Homo sapiens: one gene and its partners. The protein of the gene in region 3 purifies or fractionates together with the protein of the main gene of each other region. This does not show direct contact. Each region holds a gene or a part of one and is shown on either strand. Other genes may lie near its edges. The genes, in order: UBN2, IPO4, ASF1B, NASP, UBN1, CABIN1 and MCM6.

Region 1 (2,250 bases), on a different chromosome or scaffold from region 3:
CCATGAAAGAGGTGGAGCCATCAGCTGCTCAGGTTGTAAGAAAATGGGAGACGGAAGGCAGGATTCACTTTCTAACTGGGTCGGGGTGGGGAAGGTCAGGGTAGAAGGAAACATGTTTTCCCCAGCTCCCAGGAGGAGACGAAGATCATTTTATCCCACCTTCCATCCCTGTATATTAAGTAGTACTACTACATAGAATTTTCCCGTTATCGTTTAAAATAATAGCAACAGGAAAAGAAAAATGGATGCTGCAGTTTTAGTTGGGGCTAAATGCTGAGCAACGATTGTTGGAGTGTGTGTGTAAATTTAAATTGTAGCACATATTCAGGGTCAGGAAAGCAAAATGTTGGGGATGAGGAACCAGTGTTACCAGGTTCAAGTGAGTTAGTAGAAAGCACCAGGTCCAAGCAGACAAAGCATCTGGTTAATTTCCAGAATTGGCTAAGGTCCACTGAATCTCTAATGATAGGGTGTGTGTGTGTGTGTGTGTGTGTGTGTGTGTGTCTGTAAGTCACTTTTTGGATTTTTGTTGCTTTTTCCAGATAAGGCCTTAGTAGCCTCTAAATATCAACTATGCAGATAAACATACTCCTTTTTTTTTTCACATGTCCCTGTCTTTTCCATTCTCAGATAACAAATGTTAAGACCCAAAGAAATAAGGCATAAGGGTTTTTGTTGAATGTGTGTTTGTTCTTCTAGGGAAAATTAACAGAAGCATAAAATAGAGATACTTTGTGTGTTCATCTATCGTAAAATGTGAACTCTGTATTCAAAAACTATCTACAGATGCTTTCACTGGTGCAAAGCTGTAGTTAGTATCATGGAATGTCTTTGGGTTGTTAATGATAAAATCATCCCAGTGTTCAATTCTGAGAGTTTTAGATTATATGACACAATGTTCAGGTTTATAGAGCTGAATGGGTGATCAAACTCTAATTAAAAATAGCTTTGAATATTAATGTTGAATTCTTCTTTCTTGGTTTCCTTTAGTCTTCATTCTTTATTCAGAGCTCTTAATCATATTGCTACACTAGAATATGAATTGTATATTAGGAGTCTGGGGAGGAAAGGTTAAATTGTCTTTTACATCCTCTTCTCACTCACTCTGGCAACCTATCCTGTGTCCCCATAGAACTGAGAAGTAAAGCCCTGTGCAGGCCTGCTTTAGAAGACTTTACATCCCAGCAGAGGATTCAGGCAGGGACTCTCAGGATTTTAATCAGACTGCCTTTGAATAATGTGATATTAAATTTTATTTTTCTCATAGACTCTCAAAGTACCACTTGCTTGAAAGTAGCTACTTGTGATCTTTAATTTCCTTATATTGTGATAGTTCTACTTTTCAGTCTTTCCTGTGTATCTCCATTTCATAGTGCGTTAGTACTTAAACTTCGGACACTTTTCCAAACTGTTAAACAAGTCAGGAATGCTTTTCAGAATCGCAGTAGTATTATTAGGGTCTCTGTGTCTAGGACTTACAGTCATCAGTGGTCATCACTGGGACTAGAGGTGTTCTTTTTTTTCCTCTTCTCCTTTGTATTAAAAAATAGATTTTGCTACTGTATAATGCGGCATTTCATGACTTCCTCTTGTTACTTTTCAAGGTTATTCTAAAGAGATGGAGATCTTCATTAGAGGCTATTTCTCATAATAGTCTGCCTTGCTTATTTTCATACTCCCCCTGAAATAAGCCTACTTTTGCAAACAGGCCATATGAATCAAATTTTATGTTTGTTCCTCACAAAATTTTCTACACATTATTTGTTCCCACTTTGCTAATAATAATATAATGATTTTATTGTAAATCTGTGTTTTAAATATTTTATAACAGAGCACTAATGGAAACCTAATAAATACAAACAAGATAACTATTACCCAAGATAACATGGAAATACTTCTGTTTTTGAAGTTAACAACACCGTCTGCCCTCAAAGCACATTTAGGAGTATCAACCAAGACCAGCCAGTTGACATGTTTTTCTGTGTGGCAACCTGCCCTTAAATTGTCAGATCTTAACTATCTTGTGTTTGCTGTGCTTGCAGCCATAAGCTTTCCTCCTTTTTTGCTTATCCCTGCTGTTTGTAGGGTTAGTGTGCCCTCTGTCAGAAAATTGGGTTTTCTTTACTATACCTGCAAAATTACCAAGGGTTACCCCAATATTGTCTAGAGGAATTAAAAAGAACTTATTCTCAGTTGACAAAAGTATTACTGTTATACATAGTTAATTGGAAAGTTGGCCAACTTTGGTCA
Region 2 (3,049 bases), on a different chromosome or scaffold from region 3:
GACCAGGCGGTCCAGGCAGTCTCCACAGGGACAGGGGTGGACAGTGTATTTGGGCTTGGCCTGGGGCAGCCAGGGCCACTAAAAGAGACTGGTAATGGCCAGAGGGATACAACCCTGATCCCACTAAGCCAGTGGGAGTTCAGGGAAGGAGAGCAGTGTGGACTGGGGTGTGCTTGGAGTGATAGGTAGGAGCAGAAGAGCCAGGGGAAGAAGCTGGGTCATGGAAACACCCAGCTTGAGAGGGGCCAGCCCTATCAACCAAGGGCAGCCCCAGGGACCCCTGCAGCTGGTGGCAGAGCGTGGGAGGGAGGTGTACAGTCACTGAGCTGGCCCTGGTGCTCCAGCCCCTGACCTGGCTCCACAGGCTGAATACGACGCCATGTTGCTGGAGCACGCTGGAGAGGCCATCCCTGCCCTGGCAGCCGCGGCTGGGGGAGACTCCTTTGCCCCATTCTTTGCCGGTTTCCTGCCATTATTGGTGTGCAAGACAGTGAGTGTCCATCTTCTGGCTTCAAGCCCTAGTCCCCTCGTGCACCCGGTGCCCACCACAGCCTTTATCCTTGGCCCAGGCTGATCTGTACTCCTTCCTGTTCTCCCCCATCAGAAACAGGGCTGCACAGTGGCAGAGAAGTCCTTTGCAGTGGGGACCTTGGCAGAGACTATTCAGGGCCTGGGTGCTGCCTCAGCCCAGTTTGTGTCTCGGCTGCTCCCTGTGCTGTTGAGCACCGCCCAAGAGGCAGACCCCGAGGTGCGAAGCAATGCCATCTTCGGGATGGGCGTGCTGGCAGAGCATGGGGGCCACCCTGCCCAGGAGTATCCTTGGCTCGCAGGACGGGAGGGACTGGAGGTTGGGGGAGTGTCCCCAGGGCTTGCAGGTGGGCAAGGTCTACCTGAGCGTGTGGCCATTCCTTGACTGTGGACCAGACACTTCCCCAAGCTGCTGGGGCTCCTTTTTCCCCTCCTGGCGCGGGAGCGACATGATCGTGTCCGTGACAACATCTGTGGGGCACTTGCCCGCCTGTTGATGGCCAGTCCCACCAGGAAACCAGAGCCCCAGGTGAGGGAGGGAGACATCAGGCAGGGCTTGGAAGCTGAGGAGGGAGGGTGGTGGAGGGCAGGGCAGGTTGGCCTGAGACATTTGTGTGCCCAGGTGCTGGCTGCCCTACTGCATGCCCTGCCACTGAAGGAGGACTTGGAGGAGTGGGTCACCATTGGGCGCCTCTTCAGCTTCCTGTACCAGAGCAGCCCTGACCAGGTAACCTTGCTGCTGGCAGCCCTCAGAGGGGAACGTGCCGCTCCACTCAGTGATAGGCACTGTCTGCTGATGAGGCTCGGGAGCTCCAGGCTGTCAGTTGCACCTGATGCAAGGTGACAGTTTCAGCTGTTCTTTTGGTACTCCCTGCACCATTTCTTATTTGTCTGCAAGGATTGGCAGCCAGTCCTGTGATGGGACAGGAGGGACTTCCTTTCTCCACGTAGCATTTTTCCTGAGGAAGCTCCATTTCTACCCTTTGGTCTGAGCCAGAAGTTGCAGTTTTCCTAGGCTGGTTTCCTAAACCGGGGCCCTTTCAAACTGTGCTCTGTGGAGCCCAGGGTACCTCTGGGCCACCACACCATACATTTCAATCAGATCAGCTCTGCTCTCTGAAGAGATTTTGCCTGTACCAAGTAGCTAGGTTTGGAGTCATGTCAGAGTGTTTGTGTCACCCTTGTCTTATACCTTTAGAGACTGTTGTGTAGGTGAAGCTCCTGAGTGTCTGGGTTTCTTTAGGTCTTGAGGCTATGACTTTAATCATCTTGTCCCACATCCCCCATTCCCTCCAAAAAAAATCATTAGCACCAAGTTTCATTGGTTCTTCTCATGTTCATAGTTGTCTTGGATGCCTGTGAATCAGTACCAGGTGCAACCACCCCCCTGATAAGAGATTCTGCCACTCCTTGGTCCTGACCACCCTCCTAGACCTGGGGTCTGGGGCTGCTGCCCTGAGTCAGCCACTCTTTCCTCACAGGTTATAGATGTGGCTCCCGAGCTTCTGCGTATCTGCAGCCTCATTCTGGCTGACAACAAGATCCCACCAGGTGAGGGTAGGAGTCATAGGCAGGGGCTTGCGGGAGGCTGGGAGTGGCAGGGCTCAGAGAGCCTGGGGCAGCGAGGCTTTAGGAGCCCCGACCTTTCTCCCTCCCTCTCCACCCAGACACCAAGGCCGCACTGTTGCTGCTCCTGACGTTCCTGGCCAAACAGCACACCGACAGCTTTCAAGCAGCTCTGGGCTCACTGCCTGTTGACAAGGCTCAGGAGCTCCAGGCTGTACTGGGCCTCTCCTAGACTGCAGGCTGCAGCCAGTCCAGAGAGAATAGAGCCTGCCCAGGCCTTAAGACCACCTCTCAGCCCAGTTCAGTTCTGCCTTACCAAAGATTCTGAGACTCATACCCATTTGGAGCCAGCCCCACTTGCTGCCTTACAGGGCTGTCCCTGAGGCTGGATCTGTTACAAATGAGTCATGACATCATACTGTAATAAAAGCAGCTTGTTTTCTGCTTGAACAATAGCTCTGAGAGCAAGAAGGCTGGAAATGCACATTCAGAAATGAGGTAAGCAGGACCCAGTGAGGCACGACGTGGTTTACTAGAAGTGGCCGGTTTCCTGGCAGCTTTGTAAATGGACTCTAACCTCAGTGGAATCTGGGCCCCGGCTGGATCAGGAGGCGACCATATGGCTTTTCTTGTTTCACGTGAAGAATCTGTTGCGCTGAGAGCACTGGTCAAGAGGCGAGGAGAGGGCAGGTCGGGGGAGTCCCTGTACGGGCCTCTGGTCTCTGTGTCCCTGCCCCACATACACACACACACATGCATACACTCACCCAGGAGCAGGTAGAAGACCCGGGCAGCCATCCTGCGGGGGCTGAGAGGTGACACCAGGCTGCTGAAGTCGGGCTCCCTGTTAGCCTGCAGCTCCAGTGCCACTGCCCTATAGGGATCAAGAACCATTAGCAGAGGCTTCAGCCCGGGTCCACCCCATCAAGGTGCCACCTCCCTGGTACCTGTGCAC
Region 3 (3,500 bases):
TGAGACAGGAGAATCGCTTGAACCTGGGAGGCAGAGATTGCAGTGAGCCAAGATCACACCATTGTACTCCAACCTGGGTGACAAGAGTGAAACTCCATCTCAAAAAAGAAAAAAAAAATTAGCTAGGCGTGGCAGCGGGCACCTATAATCCCAGCCACTCGGGAGGCTGAGGTATGAGAATCACTGGAACCTGGGAGGCGGAAGTTGCAGTGAGCTGAGATCGCATCACTGTATTCTAACCTGTGTGACAGAACGAGACTCCATCTCAAAAAAAAAAAAAAATACAAGAGCCTATCCCTGCCTTCTTGCTGTTGAGCTATTTCAATTAGTTAACCCTCCTATATCTTTGCAGACCTGGAGTGGAAGATCATTTATGTTGGCTCGGCTGAGAGTGAGGAATTTGATCAGATCCTAGACTCGGTGCTGGTGGGCCCTGTGCCAGCAGGGAGACACATGTTTGTCTTTCAGGTAAGAAAGATGAGGCCTTAGGCCTTAGCCCTTGATTCCTAGAAACATCCTCTTTTACCTGAAATCCCACAGAGTGCTTCAGGAATCAAAAGTTCAAGTTCAGCTGGGCACGGGCTCACGCCTATAGACCCAGCTACTCCAGGGACTGAGGTGAGAGGATTGCTTGAGCCCGGGAGTCTGAGGCTGCAGTGAGCCACTGCACTCCAGCCTAGGCAACACAGTGAGACCCTGTCTCTAAAAAAGAAAAAAACAAGTATTAAAAACATAGAGGCCGGGCACAGTTGCTCACACCTGTAATCCCAGCACTTTGGGAGGCCGAGGTGGGAGGATTGCTTGAGGCCAGGAGTTTGAGACCAGCTGGGGCAATATAGTGAGACCGCATCTCTACAAAAAATGTAAAAATCAGCAGAGCATGGTGGTGTGCGCCTGTAGTCTCAGATACTTGGGAGGCTGAAATGGGAGGATCACTTGAGCCTGGGAGATGGAAGCTACAATGAGCCAAGACCACACCACTGCACTCCAGCCTGGGCAACAGTAAGACCCAGTCTCAATCAATCAATTAAAACAATTTAAAAGTTCAGGTTCAAATCCTAGTTCTACTGTCAGGAACTATCTGACCTCTCAGAGGCCGTCAGGCCCTCCCTTCCCCCACCTCTGTGTCAAAGCTGCCACTGATTTACAGGCAATTCCCATTATTTACAAGAGTTACGTTCTATAAAGTTGCCGCGAACACTGAATTAGTGAATACTGAACCATTGCCCCAGGGGAAATACAGGGTTAGATTCTTGGAAGTCACATTTTCGTCAGCTGGTTAATACGTAAACTTGTATGTGTGTTTATGTTGAAAAGACACCAGGACGGCTATGATGGCTCAAACCTGTAATCCCAGCACTTTGGGAGGCTGAGGTGGGTGGATCGCCTGAGGTCAGGAGTTCAAGACCAGCCTGGCCAATGTGATGAAACCCCGTCTCTACTAAAAATACAAAAATCAGCCAGGTGTGGTGGCGCATGCCTGTAATCCCAGCTACTCGGGAGGCTGCGGCGGGAGAATCGCTTGAACCTGGGAGATGGAGATTGCAGTGAGCTGAGATCGCACCAGTGCACTCTAGCCTGGGTGATACAGCGATACTCTGTCTCAGAAAAAAAGGAAAGATACCTTATTTAATATATACAGTGGTTCATTTATGTTGAATTCACAGCCAACAGCACTATAACTCTCCTGAATGAAACTTCTCTAATACGCATATTTTCCATAAAGCCTTTCTTGTATCCTACACTGCACTTCAGCACTACCGTTGGGTGCCATCATAGACAGCAAACTCACCAACAAAAAGCACAAAACATGGAAAAAAGCACTAAGTAGGCTGAGGAAAGGACGCTCATTCACAGTGAGAGCTGAGACCAGAAGACAGAGTGTTGCCTTGTTTGACCTCAGGTGGGAACAGGCGTGGTAGGTAACTCTAGGTGGGAACAGGCATGGTAGGTAACTCCAGTTTTTCCCTGCTCTGTGCATGTCTGCAAGTGACTGTGAAAGCAAGCAGGTGTTCATCTTGGGGTTACAAATAAACTTAGCAGGTAGGTGAACTTGCACATATGGAACCCATGAATAATGAGGATGGACTGTAACTCCTAAATGGCTCTCATGCAGCACCCCACCTGGGTTGTCAAATGTAGATTCTGGCCGGGTGTGGTGGCTTCCAGCACTTTGGGAGGCAGAGGCGGGAGGACTGCTTAAGGCCAGGAGTTCCAGACTAGCCTGGGCCACATAGCGAGACCCCCATCTCTACAAAAAATAGAAAAATTAGCCGGGTGTGGTGGCTTGCACCTGTCGTCCCAGCTACTTGGGAGGCTGAAGCAGGAGGCTTGCTTGAGCCTGAGAGTTTGAGGCTACAGCGAGCTATGATTGCACCTCTGCACTGCATTCTGGGTGACAGCGAGACCTGTCTCTACAAAAAAAACATTAACCAGGCATAGTGATGCAGGCCTGTAGTGCCAGCTACTAGGGAGGCTGAAGCAGAAGACTCACTTGAGGCCAGGTGCCATGGCTCACACCTGTAATCTCAACACTTTGGGAGGCTGGGGCAGGCAGATCACTTGGGGTCAGGAGTTAAAGACTAGCCTGGCCAACATGGTGAAACCCTGTCTCTACTAAAAAATACAAAAATTAGCTGGATGTGGTGGTGCACATTTGTTATCCTAGCTACTCGGGAGGCTGAGGCACGAGAATTATTTGAATCCAGGGGGCGGAAGTTACAGTGAGCTGAGATTGCGCCACTGCACTCGAGCCTGGGCAACAGAGTGAGACCCTGTCTCTAAAAAAAAAAAAAAAAAAAAATAGGCTCGCTTGAGCCCAGGAGTTCCAGGAGTTTACAGTGATCTGTGATTGCACCACTGCACTCCAGTCTGGATGACAGAGGGAAAAGCTATCTCTTTAAAAAAAGAAGGCCGGTGCAGTGGCTCACGCCTGTAATCCCAGCACTTTGGAAGGCCAAGGTGGGCGGATCACAAGGTCAGGAGATTGAGACCATCTTGGCTAACATGGTGAAGCCCCATCTCTACTAAAAAATACAAGAAATTAGCCAGGCCTGGTGGCGGGCACCTGTAGTCTCAGCTACTCAGGAGGCTGAGGCAGGAGAATGGCGTGAACCTGGGAGGCGGAGCTTGCAGTGAGCCGAGATCACGCCACTGCACTCCAGCCTGGGTGACAGTGAGACTCCATCTCAAAAAAAAAAAAAAAAAAAAAGAAGAAAGAAAAAACAAATGGAGATTCTGAGTTCTCCAGGTGATTTTTCAGGATCCTCTGCTCGGATACACTCCCTTACCTCCATCACTGCTGTTACCGCCCTAATCCAAGCTACCACATCCTATCTAACCCCTTCAGCCACCACTACTAAATCCACTGACAGGCCCTATCTACTCAACAGTCAGGACTGGCCTCCTGGGTGTGCAACCCAGGCAGCTGCACAGGACCCCACACTTGGTGCGATACTCTGCTGTCACCGTCTGAAACCTAATAGCTTTTCTGGAGGGGC
Region 4 (3,500 bases), on a different chromosome or scaffold from region 3:
GAGCCTAGATCACGCCACTGCATTCCAGCCTGGGTGACAGAGCAAGACTCTGTCTCAAAAAAAAAAAAAAAAAAAAAAAAAAAAGTAATGGCGATGGCTTTCTCCTTAACCTAGCTCCCCACCATTCCTTGAAGATGGTACAGATTCCTCAAGAGGAACCAGTAATATTCTTCTGAAGCAATTATAGGAATTTTAATTTAAAAATTTGATGTAAAACTTCCAAGTAATTAAGATATTTTGTTTCAAATTAGAGGTTGTCTTCTAGTATTCTGGTATGAGTAGGAAGAGATACCAGGTAAGAATAGAAGATAACAATATCAATTTAATTTTTCCTACAAATTGGGAAGATGAAGTATTTACTTTTCTATCAATTATCCTACATATGTAAATCTACTTCAGCTTTTCTGCATATTCTGCTAGAGGATGGGCAGAGTTAATAAGACCATCCATCTGGTCTAACTTTGGGGAACTAAGCCCGGACCCACTTGGAAATGTGGATATGAGAAGATAATGGTGTATGGTGGGCCAGGTGCAATGGTTCACACCTGTAATCCCAGCACTCTGGGAGGCTGAGGCTAGTGGATCACCTGAGGTCAGGAGTTCGAGACCAACCTGGCCAGCATGGTGAAATCCCATCTCTAGTAAAAATACAAAAAAATTAGTCGGGCCTGGGGACATGTGCCTTTAGTCCCAGCTACTCAGGAGGCTGACGTAGGAGAATCGCTTGAACCTGGGAGATGCAGGTTGCAGTGAGCGAGACCGCACCACTGCACCCCAGCTGGGCATGGTGATACACACCCATAGTCTCAGCTGCCTGAGAGACTGAGGGAGGAAGATGGCTTCAGCATAGGAGTTTGAGGCTGTCGTGAGCCATGACTGCGATGCCACTGTACTCCAGCCTGGCAAAAGAGCAAGACCCGATTCAAAGAGAAAAAGAACAGACCAATTATCTTTATTAGAAGCAAATGTACAGCCCAACACATGGCAAAGAGTCAAGAGGTGGCAGTAAACAGGGTTTTAATTTTTAAGTGAAAAAAACTGCTTGGAAGTTTTCTGCAGAATGGTGCTGCCACGTAAAGGGAAATAAAGCACAGAAAGTAAGTGGTTGAGTACTCAAGCCAGAAGTTTGGGTAGCAGGCTTCTCCTTACTGTGTGACTAGGGCAAGTTACTTAAACCCCTTTCTCCCATTTCTTCTTTTGTAAAATATGGAAAACTGTATTGTCTTTACAAGCAGAACAGTATCTGATATACAACACCAAAAAATGCAGCATATGAAAAGCCTGGGGCTTTTAAAATATAGTTAACTTTTTAAATAAGTGACAGATTTTTTTTTTCTTTTGGAAGACAGAGACTCGCTGTGTTGCCCAGGCTGGAGCACAGCGGCATGATCTCAGCTCACTGCAACCTCTGCCTCCCGGGTTCAAGCGATTCTTCTGGTTCAGCCTCCCAAGTAGCTGGGACCACAGGCGCATGCCACCACGTCCAGCTAATTTTTGTATTTTTAGTAGAGTCAAAGTTTCAACATATTGGCCAGGCTGGTCTCAAACTTCTGACCATGTGATCTGCCCACCTCGGCCTCTCAAAGTGCTGGGATACAGGTGTGAAGCTACTGCGCCCAGCCCACGACAAAATTTCTAAGCAGTGGGTGTAGGAAAAGGATGAACACTGTCTTCTTCAATGTGTGGTAACTTGGGAAGAATAATATATTCAAGGCAGATCTGGGTTCAGATTCAGTATTATGACCCTAAACAAGTCATGTAACCTTTAAACCTCAACCTCATCACTGTAACTTGGGCAATACTACCTATCACATAGTATTGTTTTAGGATCAGATGTAATGTATGAGAGTTCTAACAATGTTAATTATGATCCAACGAGTTTTCGAACAATCTGTAAGGGACTGTGATATCTGTATTGTAGCTTACCATTCAAGGTCTTAGGGGTCAGCCAGCAGAGCTTTTTACCATCCTTGCTCACAATCATTAAGATCAAGACATGGGAGTTTTGTTTTTTTGTGTGTGTGGTTTTGTTTGTTTGTTTTTTGAGGAATTTAGTTCTGTGCTTTTTTCCATAAAGAACTCCTAAAGCTCCATTAAGAAACCCAATGGTGCTACCATTTTAGCCAATTCATTTCCAGTTACTGAGCCTGTGTTGGCTGGAGTACAGGGACCTGCACATAGGTAGAAGGAAGTTTACCAGAATGAGTTCAAAGTATTGAAGATGGGTCTCTGAAAATCTAAAACTTACGAGAACTCTTGAAGTAGTCTGGCAATTACAAGAAGTAACAATTAGTTGGAATATACCTGTGGTTATTAATGCCAATGTTAGATGAAACTTATATACAGTAGAATCCTCAAATGATAGCAAAAGTCAGACGTGCCAGTTATGTAATAATTAGAGGCTTATACACCTTAATGAAATTTAATCACACTTAGACCAATAGCATTATAGAAAGCATCCACACTTTATAATATTCTAAGTAACAAAAATTCAGTTTAGCAGCCGAAGCAAGCATGAAATGAGGAAGGAAAACAGGAAGAGAGCTAATGGTTATGTTTTCTGTTGCCTTGGGGAAGGTGGGGGGGGCCTGTTTTAACTAATGTGAATAAGCCTCTAAACACTTCCTGAAGACTTAAAGAGGGGCACCAGAATTCTTTAACTCTGGTGATACAACAGTCAAGGTTAACTGCCTTCATTTAAATGGCATGCCTGCTTCAGTGTACCAATTCAGTGGATTCTACTGCTCTGTAGCTGCTTCCCAACGCACAGAAAAGGAGTCATGTGAACAATAATTTTAAAATCCAGAGGCATGCAAGTGAACATCCATTCAGCATTCTCTGCCAGCCTAGCCCACTATTTCCCTACCTACCCCACCCCTCATCTACCTTTTCCATCCCACTTTATTGGCTAGTATGCTGCAACAAGTTACTGATAGCTAGCCAAGTCTCAGAAATCACACAGAAGGCCTATTTTGCAGTTAGTAAAAGTGTTAGTTTATAAGCCAGCTAAAGAAGACTTGCTGCTTTTGATTGAACTTACTTGACTATCACGACCTTGTTAAACTACCCCCCTTTTCATTTAGCCCTTTCCTAATCCAAAGGCAGACGGAAAATCCTGAATGGAAGGCTGACTTTTACCCATAATTAGTGAGTCAAATCCAGAATGTACTCCACCCACTGCAGCTCTTGCATATCCCGGTTACCTTCACCCTCTTTCATCTGTTCTTCTCTCTCTTGTGTCTCTTCATTAGCAGCTATCTGAACTTTGTCTTCAGGTGATTTCTCAGTAGCTCCCTGGGCTACCTTGGTATCAACCCCATCTCCAGCTGCCTCAGACTCTTCTACAGACAGCTTAGTCTCCTCCTGACTAGGAACCAGCTTTGCCCTGACCTTCTCCTCTAGTCCTGAGCCATCTTTTGTTTCTGTCAGTCTTTCTATAGAAGTCTGTGGTTCAATAGGAGTCTGATCTCCTACAACTGACGGTCCATTGACTGCACCAT
Region 5 (3,500 bases), on a different chromosome or scaffold from region 3:
GGAAGGGACTTCCTTCTGGAGACTCACTGAGCAGATGCTCCAAGTCCAAATCCGTCAGCGAGTCCATGGCAGTGGCCGCCTGGAGCAAGTCGTTGTCAGAAGTAGAGCCAAAGAGTGAGAGCAAGGGGTCAGAGGCACCCTCCAGTTCCCGCAGGCCCTGAGCTTCCGCTGATGGGACCGCAACAGGCTTATGCTCCTCCTCCCTTTTTTTCTGAGCCTCTTTCTCTTTCTGAAATTTCTTTAGCATCTCTTTAACGCTTAAAGCCCCAGAATATTTCTTCTTCTTCTTCTCCTTACTGGCATTGAGGGCTGTGAAGCTGCAAGCAAGAGGGAAACTGGTCACTCAGACTATAGGACACCTCCAAAGGGAACTCCAGAGGCCTTCACCCCTGCTCCCAGGGTCATGGTCTCCAGGAGAACCTGTCACAGTCCACCCTGTCATTCCTCCTCCCTCCTCTTGGCATATGGAGCTCGTTCTTGCTGAGACCAAAGCTTGAGAGTTAATACAGGTTAGCAACACAGTGTCACATATGCTAAATTTCCGACGGGTTTTTAGAAACCACTGCCAGGCTGAAATAAAAGGTTGCAAAAAGGGGCAGGGAGAGCAAGAAAAGTATTTAGAGGGAGAAAGCAGGAGCAGCAGAGAACAGCAGCAACTTGAAGAGAAGCTGGGGTGAGACCAAGTGAGGAGAAGGAAGCATGACCATAGACAACAAGGGAAAACAGCGGAGACAGAAGGAGAACTGGGGCAGAGAGGAGCACCCCAGAGGACGAGAAACATCAGCAGTCACACAGTGACAACAATAGCTGCCAACACTGACAGTGGAACTATCTGACACACTGAGAGGTGAGCGTCTATGCCCAGAATGGCACTGCGGGAGGCGTGCGGGAGGACAGGAAGGCCAGGCCCTGCTGCCTCTTCCGAAGCTGTGGGGAGGAGGTGAGTCAGCTCCCAGTCGTCCTGCCCTAACAGTTCAGGCTTTATCCTAGCAAAGAAGCTGCTGCCTCTCACCCGGCTTTGGAAAACTTGGACTTTTTCGATTTCTTCTCCTTGTCATAAGTGTCATCTTTTTTCTTCTTCTTTATCTTCTCACCACCTTCCTTCAACTTCCGCTTCTGAGAATTAAAGACAAGGCACAGTTACACGGCTCCCTAACTCAGGGAGCAAGTGCACTACACGGCACTGGCCTTGCTCCGCCCGGGGCACATCCTGAGACCTGTCTCATTTCCTTCATGAACAAAAGCTCTCAGATCAGTCCCTGGACCACAAACCCACAGCATTCCCACCGACGGTGTCTCCTGGAAACACCCAGGGCTGAGACAACAGTGACCATTCTGGAGCCTGAAACCTTTGTAGTTTGAAAGTTACAAGTGGGCCCTACCTCTCATCTTAAACACATAGGCAGTGGTAGACAGGTTTTTAAACACACTGATCCTAAGGCTGACTGGTTTTCAGTGGGATGGCAGCCCTGAAACTGAAGTCCTCTACATGTCCACAGAAGAGGGTCAGCAAGAGTGGTACACATTCCCTCATTCCACAGCCTTCCCACCCTGAGGCCACCTCCAGAAACGACCCCTGCTGAGCCTGCTGGGATGTCATGTGACATGGACATAATGACCAAGTGCTGAACAGAGCCCCCACGGGCACGTGTCCTCATTAGGGCACACGTGTAAGAGGCGAGCCATCAACCTGGCACGGCTCTGCCTTTCCACCATCCTCCTGAGCCGGCCAAGCGCCACGTATTCTGGCAAGTCACCTACTGATCTGATAGGGTCACGTCAAAAAGCATTTCTGAAATCCAAAAGCAAGCACATTCTAACCTTTGGAGATTTTTTCTTCTTTTCTTTAATGAAGTCATCTTCAGACTCTGATGCTTGTCTAAACTGCAGGGTTCCCGAGTTAATGTAAAATCCTCCATACTTCGTAGTCAAAGAAGCAGGAACAAGCTCATCATACTGAAGATGGGAAACAAACTGTCAGCTCCAAGTTCTGCTTCTGCAGTCCGAAGGTGCAAAGTGGGTCTCGAGAGAGATGTGACTGTGCTCCTCTGCCACTTCCAAGAGCATGCTAAAACATCCTCTGGTCAAACATGAATGTCTGAGCTACAAGGTGTTTTGGACAGATCTGGTCATCACTTTCTGAAGAGGGAACTAAGACCCGGATAAAGAATGTCATTTCGTCTCTCATCAGTGCTGCTACTGCCTCATGCTGGGAAGAGGGCACGACTGCTCTGACCCCACCCCCAGCTTCCTGGTCAGTATCAGGAGGAGCTACAGGTACAGTGGGTCTGACACGGCATTTTCAGTAACTACTTACCGCCTCAGAGTTATCGATGAAGGAGTCGGATTCATCATAACCATACCCCATATCGATCAAGTCCTGTATTCGGTCTTTTCTACGTTTCTTTCCACCCTAAAATGTGAAAGCAATAGATTACATGCTTTTTGAATAAACACACAGAATTAACTGTGGCCTTGAACTTCATCAGCTATGACTCAAAGAGGTAATGCACTAACTAAAACAGTCACTCTCTCACATACACACAAACCCCAAAACCTCCTTTCCTGAAAACCTTTTAACATAGAACATATTTGTACCTGTATAAAATGTCCTAGGACAGAAAAATGAACTAAATGGCTTCTTATGCTTTGTACCAAAATATTTCTTCTAAGGCGACCACAGGCCCTTCTCGGTTATTTGTCCAGTTAGCTCTTCACACTAGCTCTGCCATGCCCCTTTTCTGTACCTTAATGCGTTAGGTTTAATAACTGCTTCTCTTCTCTCCATGCTTAAGGCTTACTTCCAGATCAGTGTTTATTACATGATGATCCACTAAAGGAATACAGTGTGGAAACGTCTCCCACCCAATGAGGTTGTTTTGTTATTCAAGAGAGAAATCTTACGTATTTTTCTTCAAATTTTCGGGCAAGGGCCTCTACTTTATGCCTTTCCTTTTCTTCGTCATTGAAAGGATCTGACAGATCTTTCTTCTGTAAAGAGATCGTTCCACAAAAAATAAGTCAGAAAATATTCCCATGTTCTTATTCATAGAAACTTCACTGATTACTCAATACCTCTATAAAAACAATGTTTTCCAGAAAAGGGCAAGGTAGAAAACATGCTACCATCTCATCAATGTTTATCTTAATTAAGAAAGTAAAATTTCCCTTAATGTAGGTTAATAAAACTTGATTGAATGCCTACAATCATCCACCACAGCATGAGGGGCTGCAGGACTCAAAGACAGCAAAGGGCCTTTAGAAGGAGATGCCCAGTCGCTACACAACCACGTTCAATAAAGTGGACTTCCTTTGTAACTCTTAAAATTTTCTTCAGGCATTTAAAAACATTCTAAGAAAGAGTCCATTGACTTCCAAAATAGTCAAGGGCTCAAAAACGTGAAAATCCCACTGAATGTGGTGCAAGTTCTTGAGAGCCGTTCTGCCATACTGTTTAGAAAGGTCTGAATTTGCACTTCTCTCGGTGCTACCAAAGTTAA
Region 6 (3,825 bases), on a different chromosome or scaffold from region 3:
GGCCCCAGCTTTGTACCGGGAGCTGTCACTCCTGCTGACCAAGGAGGGGAGCTGGCTCCCCCTGCTGGAGAGGATGGAGGGCCTCCTGGCAGAGGAGCGGGATGGGGAGGCGGTGGGGTGGCTGGAAAGGCAGTGGTTGATGACCAGTGTGGTGGGAGAGTCCAGACCTGAGTGAGAAGGTGGGGAGCAGCAAGGGAAGTGAGGGCCTGGAGGCCTGGGAACCGGGGACCGATGCTGAGTAGTCACCTGGCCAGCAGCCACAGGCACAGCATTTGCCCCTCAGGCCCATCCCGGCCTTGGCCCAACTGAGCCCAATTCCTGGCCCCTGCCTCAGGCCAGGGAAGGTGTGGCTGGCTGGGCAGGAGCCATAGTGCCAGCGTCTACTTTGGTCTTAGTTGGGTTGTTTGGATTTTGGTCCTGACCTCGTTTCTGAATGCTGCTTATGTGAGCTGGAGGGAGAGTGGACACTGCCCCCCCATCCCCTCTCACTGCCTTGTGATGGGATCTTAAGAGAGGCTGGGCCTCGAAGACTCAGGTGTGGCCCCACTGGGTCAGGTGTATAGCCCTCTCGGGAGGCGGAGGAGCCCTCTGGGGGTGGGGAGCCAGCCCCTACCAGTGTCCTCTTGGGTGGTGAGTGGTTTCTTGGCAGCACCAACCTGGACTGCCTCAGCCAGGACCCCAGCATTGGCCACACTCCCCTGCCCAGTGTCCCAGGGCACAACCTGGGCCCATAGGACCTGACACAGATGCGTTGGAGCCTGCGGGGTGGATGAGTCTATTACCTGCAGTGAGCCCATGTCCCCACAGAGGGAGAAGAGCTGGCGAGAGTGGCAGAGGGCACCAGCTTCCCGCCTCAGGAGCCACGGCACAGTCCGCAGGTGAAGATGGCCCCCACAAGTTCCCCGGCAGAGCCACACTGCTGGCCGGCAGAGGCTGCCCTGGGCACAGGCGCTGAGCCCACCTGCAGCCAGGGTAAGGCGAGTTGGGAGCAGCCCAGCACCAGCCCCCAGGAGGCTGCCTCACAGCTGGCAGCCAGGGTGGGTTTCCCGGCCTGGCCTTGAAGGGCAGGGCCTGGGGATGCCCCATGGAATGAGATGGGGAGGAAATGGGGGTAGTGCAGGCTGGACAGGGGAGCCAAGGGAGAGGCCCAGGCTGAAGAGTTTAATGCGTGGCCCATTGTGTCAGGGGCTGGGTAGAGAGGGACCCCAGAGGCTTATTCCACCCCTGGCATCACGGAGGGGTACTAGCGAGGGCAGGCGGCCTGCTTGGGCCCACTGCAGAACCCAGGCTGAGCCCAGAGTGGGGAAAGAGGAGTAGGCATGGACAGGGCGGAGCATGGGCCTGGTGACAGACACTTGAGGGACATCAGCAGCAGGCAGAAGGGTGGACAGGTTGGGCTGGGCCAAGCAGGCGTCCCCGTCGACAGCCACGTCAGATTCTAGCCCTGGCCTCAGTCCGGCCTGTTCCCACCAGCTGCCCCAACCAGCCAGACCCCTTGGGGACTCCTCCTGGCCTGGGCCTCCCACAGACCACTTGGGATGGCAGGACCTGGCGCCAGCCCCTGGGGGCCAGGCATGGGCTCTGTGTAAACCCCATTCCTTTTAAAGCCATGGGGCTGCAGAGGAATGTGGAGACGAGCCAGGCCAGCCGGGTCCTCCCAGCTCGTGCAGCTCCCTAGAGGCTGCCAGGCCTGCAACTGGCCCAGCCTTCAGGCTCTGGGCAAACTCAGCCCCTTGCTCCCACTGGAGGATGAGGCGAAAGTGGATGCCCTGGGGCCAGCTCAGTGACCATGCCTGGCTGAGCGACCAGCTCTGGGCTTCAGTGTCCTCCCTGGGGCATAGACACCAATAGGACATGCATCCTAGGATGGTTGTGGAAATACGACAGTTCATGCAAGCATGATGCCTGGAGGTCTTACAGAACCCAGCAAGGCTCAGGGAGTCTCAGGTCCTGGGCTTTGAGTTCATGGTGTTACTGGGTAAGGTTCACAGTCCCAGCACCCCACAGCTCAGAGCCAGAGTTGGGTCCCTGCAGGCCTGAGCCAAGTATTTGCCCAGGGTAGAAGCCTTGGAGCCTGCCAGCCAGCACAAACTACACAGCATAAAGGCCCAGGACCTGGGGGGAGCGGGTGGGGGCGAGATAAAGTGCTCACTGTGTGATGCGGCAGGCAGGAAGTGCTCTTGGTACCTTTGTCTTCCAGAGGGGAAACTGAGGCCTGAGCCGAGAAGGGATGGGGAGGCTCAGGAGGCTGCGAGTGAGACTCAGCCCCTGAGCTCTCCCCCAACAGCTGCCAGCTCCAAGGCCCCCAGCAGTGGGAGTGCCCAGCCACCAGAGGGTCACCCAGGCAAGCCTGAGCCCAGCCGGGCTAAGTCCCGCCCCCTGCCCAACATGCCAAAGCTGGTCATCCCCTCCGCCGCCACCAAGTTCCCCCCTGAGATCACCGTCACGCCACCCACCCCAACCCTGCTCTCCCCCAAAGGCAGCATCTCGGAGGAGACCAAGCAGAAGCTGAAGGTGACCTCAGGGGCTGGGCTGGAGCCATGTGTGGGTGGGAGGCATAGGTTACAAAGGGGGCCTAGGATGGGGGTGGGGGTGGCAGGAGGGCCTGGGGTGTGGGTGAGGATGGCATAGGGGCCTGGGGCAGGGGTGAGGGTGGGAGGGGGGCCTGGGGCAGGGGTGAAGGTGGCAGAGGGGCTTGGGGCAGAGCCCAGCCATCCTTGACCAGTGCCCCGCCCGGCCCTCTCCGCAGTCAGCCATCCTTTCTGCCCAGTCTGCTGCCAACGTGAGGAAGGAGAGCCTATGCCAGCCAGCCCTGGAGGTCCTGGAGACATCCAGCCAGGAGTCCTCGCTGGAGAGCGAGACAGACGAGGACGACGACTACATGGACATTTGAGGGGCCACTGCAGCCCCACCGCCACGCCCCAGGGGACCAGCCAGGCCTGGAATGCCCCCTGGGCAGGACCCTGGGCAGGACCAGAGGCCCACATGGATGCCACTCCCCACACAGCCCCCAGGCCTGCCCAGCCCACCTCCTCATGGCATCCTCCCTGTACCCAGGTCAGGCTGTCCACACCACATGGGAGCCCAGAGGAGGAGGGGCCCGCCTTAGCCATGTGAAGGTGGATTGGTCGCCATCTGCACGCCAGGCGGCATCCTTTTCTATGAAGTGTTGACTTTGTAAATCTGCCCACACCCAGCTGGCCATATCCACCCCTCGACGCCGGGATGAGCCGGCTCTGCCTGTGTCACAGTGGAGGGGTCCTTTAGGGCCAGGCTCACCCCTCACCCTTTTTTTGGTTGCTTTTCTAATAAAGATGGAACAGTTGTCTTTGCCTCTTTGCTCACCTCTAGGGGGCAATCTGGCAGAGTCTCTGGCGGAGAGTTGCTGTCCCCAGGGATTCTGGGCCTTTACTGCCATAGTCCATAGGGCAGGGCCTAGCCCCCCTCCTTCTCCAGCATCTCAGGGACCAGCCAGGCAACCAAAGCAGCGGCTGGGGGTGCCCAGTGGGGTAAGGAGAGAGCCGACTCGGGGCTGGGCCAGGCAGACGCCTCTAGTGCAGCTGGAGCCAGGCTTCAAAGGGGAGTTAGGTGCATCCCCAGAACGCACCTGGGTGCCAGTGGGTGGGAGGCTGTACGGTGGGAGGGCAGGCAGGGCTGGGGCAGCTGAGAGGCTGGGAGGAGGGGGCTGTCAGGGAGGGAAAGGGGGGATGGGGCCGGCAGGGAGGGTACTTAACTCCCATCACAGTCGCCCTAATGGGGCCAGTCACAGAATAGCTGGGCTCAGTGCAAGACATAAATATGAAGCTCCTTGATCAAAAAGGATTA
Region 7 (3,159 bases), on a different chromosome or scaffold from region 3:
CTCAGATCAGGGTCCAGAGTTGCTTTTCTAGTGGTGGGACATGTCTGTGTGCTCCTTGGGATCAGTGTAAAGTAAAACGACCCAGGCAAGGAATCTGCTTCAGGACTTTGGAACACACTGTGAAGCTAACTGATCTAAACTTGAATTACCTATTTATTTATTTATTTATTTATTTATCTTTTGAGAGAGTCTTGCTCTGTTGCCCAGACTGGAGTGCAGTAGCATGATCTCAGCTCGCCGCAACTTCCGCCTTCTGGGTTTAAATGATTCTCTTATCTCAGCCTCCAGAGTAGCTGGGATTACAGGTGCCCGCCACCACTCCCAGCTAATTTTTGTATTTTTAGTAGAGATGGTGTTTCACCATGTTGGCCAGGCTGGTCTCAAACTCCTGACCTCAGGTGATCCACCCACCTCAGCCTCCCAAAGTGCTGGGATTACAGGCATGAGCTACTGCGCTCAGCCTGGATTACCTTTTAAAATTTGGCTTACCACCTGAACTAATTTGCTACAGAAAACTAGAGAGCTTATACTGTGCTGATGAGATATGATGCTTCCTATGAAGGTATGTTAACACATAGAGTGAGTGCTTGAAAGTGTCCAATCTAACTTCAGGGGTAGATTTGAAAGGGCAATTTTTTAAAAAGTGTCCAGTCCCCCTTAGTGGCTTCAGTGTTTATACTGTGGAGCCTTGCCAGACTTCTTAGGATCAAATCACAGTTTCCTGAGTTCCTTTCTATGGGCTTGGCTAGGAGCTCTTCTCATTTGTGGACAGTTTTGACTAACCTGTAATTATATCGTGGGCTTAAAATCTGTCATCAAGATTTTAAGCCAGATGGCATGTTCTACCTTTTTTTTTATTAGCTCAGAGTGAAAAATTTTTCAGATGAATTTTCATAGATTCTTCTCCTAACTCTATGAAATGGTGGTATATGAAAAAGTTCAGTGGTCATAATTAAAAATTGCTGAATGATATTAAGTATGAAACAGACTTCCAATTAATTAGAAGATTTTGCAGAGTTGTTTAACCTTAAAATTCAAGCATTACTTCCTTTTTTGAAGTTGTATTTACAAGCATTTGATGTAATATATTTAAGTATTTCTTAATTTTCCACAAGGGGTTTATGGTATGAAAAGGTCAGCATCCTACTAGGAACAGGGTTTAGCAGAGCACTGATAGTGATTTTTAAAGTGTGGTCCTTTTCCTAGGAGTTTCTAGTTGGGAAATGAAAGAAAATGTTGATAGCAAACACTCGGAAGAAGGGTCAAGTCTTGTATATCTGGACATTGGTATAATACTGCTTGAAACCTGAGGACAAATATTTGTGTTTCACAGGATCATGTTCTAATTGAGCTCACCCAGGCTGGATTGAAAGGCTCCACAGAGGGAAGTGAGAGCTATGAAGAAGATCCCTACTTGGTAGTTAACCCTAACTACTTGCTCGAAGATTGAGATAGTGAAAGTAACTGACCAGAGCTGAGGAACTGTGGCACAGCACCTCGTGGCCTGGAGCCTGGCTGGAGCTCTGCTAGGGACAGAAGTGTTTCTGGAAGTGATGCTTCCAGGATTTGTTTTCAGAAACAAGAATTGAGTTGATGGTCCTATGTGTCACATTCATCACAGGTTTCATACCAACACAGGCTTCAGCACTTCCTTTGGTGTGTTTCCTGTCCCAGTGAAGTTGGAACCAAATAATGTGTAGTCTCTATAACCAATACCTTTGTTTTCATGTGTAAGAAAAGGCCCATTACTTTTAAGGTATGTGCTGTCCTATTGAGCAAATAACTTTTTTTCAATTGCCAGCTACTGCTTTTATTCATCAAAATAAAATAACTTGTTCTGAAGTTGTCTATTGGATTTCTTTCTACTGTACCCTGATTATTACTTCCATCTACTTCTGAATGTGAGACTTTCCCTTTTTGCTTAACCTGGAGTGAAGAGGTAGAACTGTGGTATTATGGATGAGGTTTCTATGAGAAGGAGTCATTAGAGAACTCATATGAAAGCTAGAGGCCTTAGAGATGACTTTCCAAGGTTAATTCCAGTTGTTTTTTTTTTTTTTTAAGTTTATAAAAGTTTATTATACTTTTTTAAAATTACTCTTTAGTAATTTATTTTACTTCTGTGTCCTAAGGGTAATTTCTCAGGATTGTTTTCAAATTGCTTTTTTAGGGGAAATAGGTCATTTGCTATATTACAAGCAATCCCCAAATTTTATGGTCTTCCAGGAAAAGTTATTACCGTTTATGATACTAACAGTTCCTGAGACTTAGCTATGATCAGTATGTTCATGAGGTGGAGCAGTTCCTGTGTTGCAGCTTTTAACAACAGATGGCATTCATTAAATCACAAAGTATGTTAAAGGTCACAAAAGCAAAATAACTGTCTGAGGCTAAGGCCCACGTGGGACAGTCTAATACCCATGAGTACTCAACTTGCCTTGATGTCTGAGCTTTCCAGTGCAATGTGAATTTGAGCAGCCAGAAATCTATTAGTAGAAAGCAAGACAGATTAATATAGGTTAAAACAATGATTTAAATATGTTTCTCCCAATAATTATCTCTTTCCCTGGAATCAACTTGTATGAAACCTTGTCAAAATGTACTCCACAAGTATGTACAATTAAGTATTTTAAAAATAAATGGCAAACATTAAAAACAAGAGTGAATACTCAAGTAGATTTGTCATGGGATTTTTATAAGAAGACTGGTATCAGGTAATGTATCTTTAAAGACTAGGCTGCTCTGCTGACGTAGTAACCATTTTTTATTCCTTTACTTTCCTAATAGCCTTGCTTTCACTTAAGAAAAAAAAAGGCTAGGCACGGTGGCTCACGCCTGTAATCCCAGCACTTTGGGAGGCCAAGGTGAGTAGATCACCTGAGGTCAGGAGTTCGAGACAAGCCTGGCCAACGTGGAGAAAACCTGTCTCTACTAAAAGTACAAAAATTAGCCAGGCATGGTGGTGGGCACCTGTAATCCCAGCTACTCAGGAGGTTGAGGCAGGAGAATTGCTTGAACCCAAGAGGTGGAAGTTGCAGTGAGCTGAGATCATGCCACTGCCCTCCAGCTTGGGCGGCAACAACAACAACAAAAAAAGATTCCCAGGCTTCACCCTCTACAGTCTATGGAAAGTCATGGGAGTCTATTAAAAAAAAACAG

Evidence for each region.
Region 1: the proteins of ASF1B (region 3) and UBN2 purify together in Homo sapiens (affinity purification with mass spectrometry; 3 studies listed by BioGRID and IntAct, with this or other methods). This does not show direct contact.
Region 2: the proteins of ASF1B (region 3) and IPO4 purify together in Homo sapiens (affinity purification with mass spectrometry; 6 studies listed by BioGRID and IntAct, with this or other methods). This does not show direct contact.
Region 4: the proteins of ASF1B (region 3) and NASP purify together in Homo sapiens (affinity purification with mass spectrometry; 6 studies listed by BioGRID and IntAct, with this or other methods). This does not show direct contact.
Region 5: the proteins of ASF1B (region 3) and UBN1 purify together in Homo sapiens (affinity purification with mass spectrometry; 4 studies listed by BioGRID and IntAct, with this or other methods). This does not show direct contact.
Region 6: the proteins of ASF1B (region 3) and CABIN1 purify together in Homo sapiens (affinity purification with mass spectrometry; 4 studies listed by BioGRID and IntAct, with this or other methods). This does not show direct contact.
Region 7: the proteins of ASF1B (region 3) and MCM6 purify together in Homo sapiens (affinity purification with mass spectrometry; 5 studies listed by BioGRID and IntAct, with this or other methods). This does not show direct contact.

Annotation. Positions count from the first base shown.
Region 1 is NC_000007.14:139,304,237-139,306,486, forward strand, and holds part of UBN2 (ubinuclein-2), read left to right. Parts: 3' UTR 1-2,250.
Region 2 is NC_000014.9:24,179,719-24,182,767, reverse strand, and holds the end of IPO4 (importin-4), read left to right. Parts: intron 1-344; exon of another isoform or gene 345-364; coding exon 365-490; intron 491-604; coding exon 605-813; intron 814-924; coding exon 925-1,057; intron 1,058-1,150; coding exon 1,151-1,255; intron 1,256-1,844; exon of another isoform or gene 1,845-2,009; coding exon 2,010-2,079; exon of another isoform or gene 2,080-2,195; coding exon 2,196-2,326; 3' UTR 2,327-2,499; downstream 2,500-3,049. Other genes in the region: meiotic recombination protein REC8 homolog, read right to left, coding at 2,500-2,968, 3,042-3,049. UniProt on the Homo sapiens protein: Nuclear transport receptor that mediates nuclear import of proteins, such as histones, RPS3A, TNP2 and VDR. Serves as receptor for nuclear localization signals (NLS) in cargo substrates.
Region 3 is NC_000019.10:14,123,090-14,126,589, reverse strand, and holds part of ASF1B (histone chaperone ASF1B), read left to right. Parts: intron 1-352; coding exon 353-468; intron 469-3,500. UniProt on the Homo sapiens protein: Histone chaperone that facilitates histone deposition and histone exchange and removal during nucleosome assembly and disassembly. Cooperates with chromatin assembly factor 1 (CAF-1) to promote replication-dependent chromatin assembly.
Region 4 is NC_000001.11:45,608,041-45,611,540, reverse strand, and holds part of NASP (nuclear autoantigenic sperm protein), read right to left. Parts: coding exon 3,204-3,500; intron 1-3,203. UniProt on the Homo sapiens protein: Component of the histone chaperone network. Binds and stabilizes histone H3-H4 not bound to chromatin to maintain a soluble reservoir and modulate degradation by chaperone-mediated autophagy.
Region 5 is NC_000016.10:4,857,481-4,860,980, reverse strand, and holds part of UBN1 (ubinuclein-1), read right to left. Parts: intron 2,992-3,500; coding exon 2,905-2,991; intron 2,414-2,904; coding exon 2,318-2,413; intron 1,957-2,317; coding exon 1,822-1,956; intron 1,117-1,821; coding exon 1,013-1,116; intron 318-1,012; coding exon 1-317. UniProt on the Homo sapiens protein: Acts as a novel regulator of senescence. Involved in the formation of senescence-associated heterochromatin foci (SAHF), which represses expression of proliferation-promoting genes. Binds to proliferation-promoting genes.
Region 6 is NC_000022.11:24,175,304-24,179,128, forward strand, and holds the end of CABIN1 (calcineurin-binding protein cabin-1), read left to right. Parts: intron 1-807; coding exon 808-972; intron 973-2,200; coding exon 2,201-2,514; intron 2,515-2,749; coding exon 2,750-2,893; 3' UTR 2,894-3,325; downstream 3,326-3,825. UniProt on the Homo sapiens protein: May be required for replication-independent chromatin assembly. May serve as a negative regulator of T-cell receptor (TCR) signaling via inhibition of calcineurin. Inhibition of activated calcineurin is dependent on both PKC and calcium signals.
Region 7 is NC_000002.12:135,839,126-135,842,284, reverse strand, and holds the end of MCM6 (DNA replication licensing factor MCM6), read left to right. Parts: intron 1-1,333; coding exon 1,334-1,450; 3' UTR 1,451-2,659; downstream 2,660-3,159. UniProt on the Homo sapiens protein: Acts as a component of the MCM2-7 complex (MCM complex) which is the replicative helicase essential for 'once per cell cycle' DNA replication initiation and elongation in eukaryotic cells.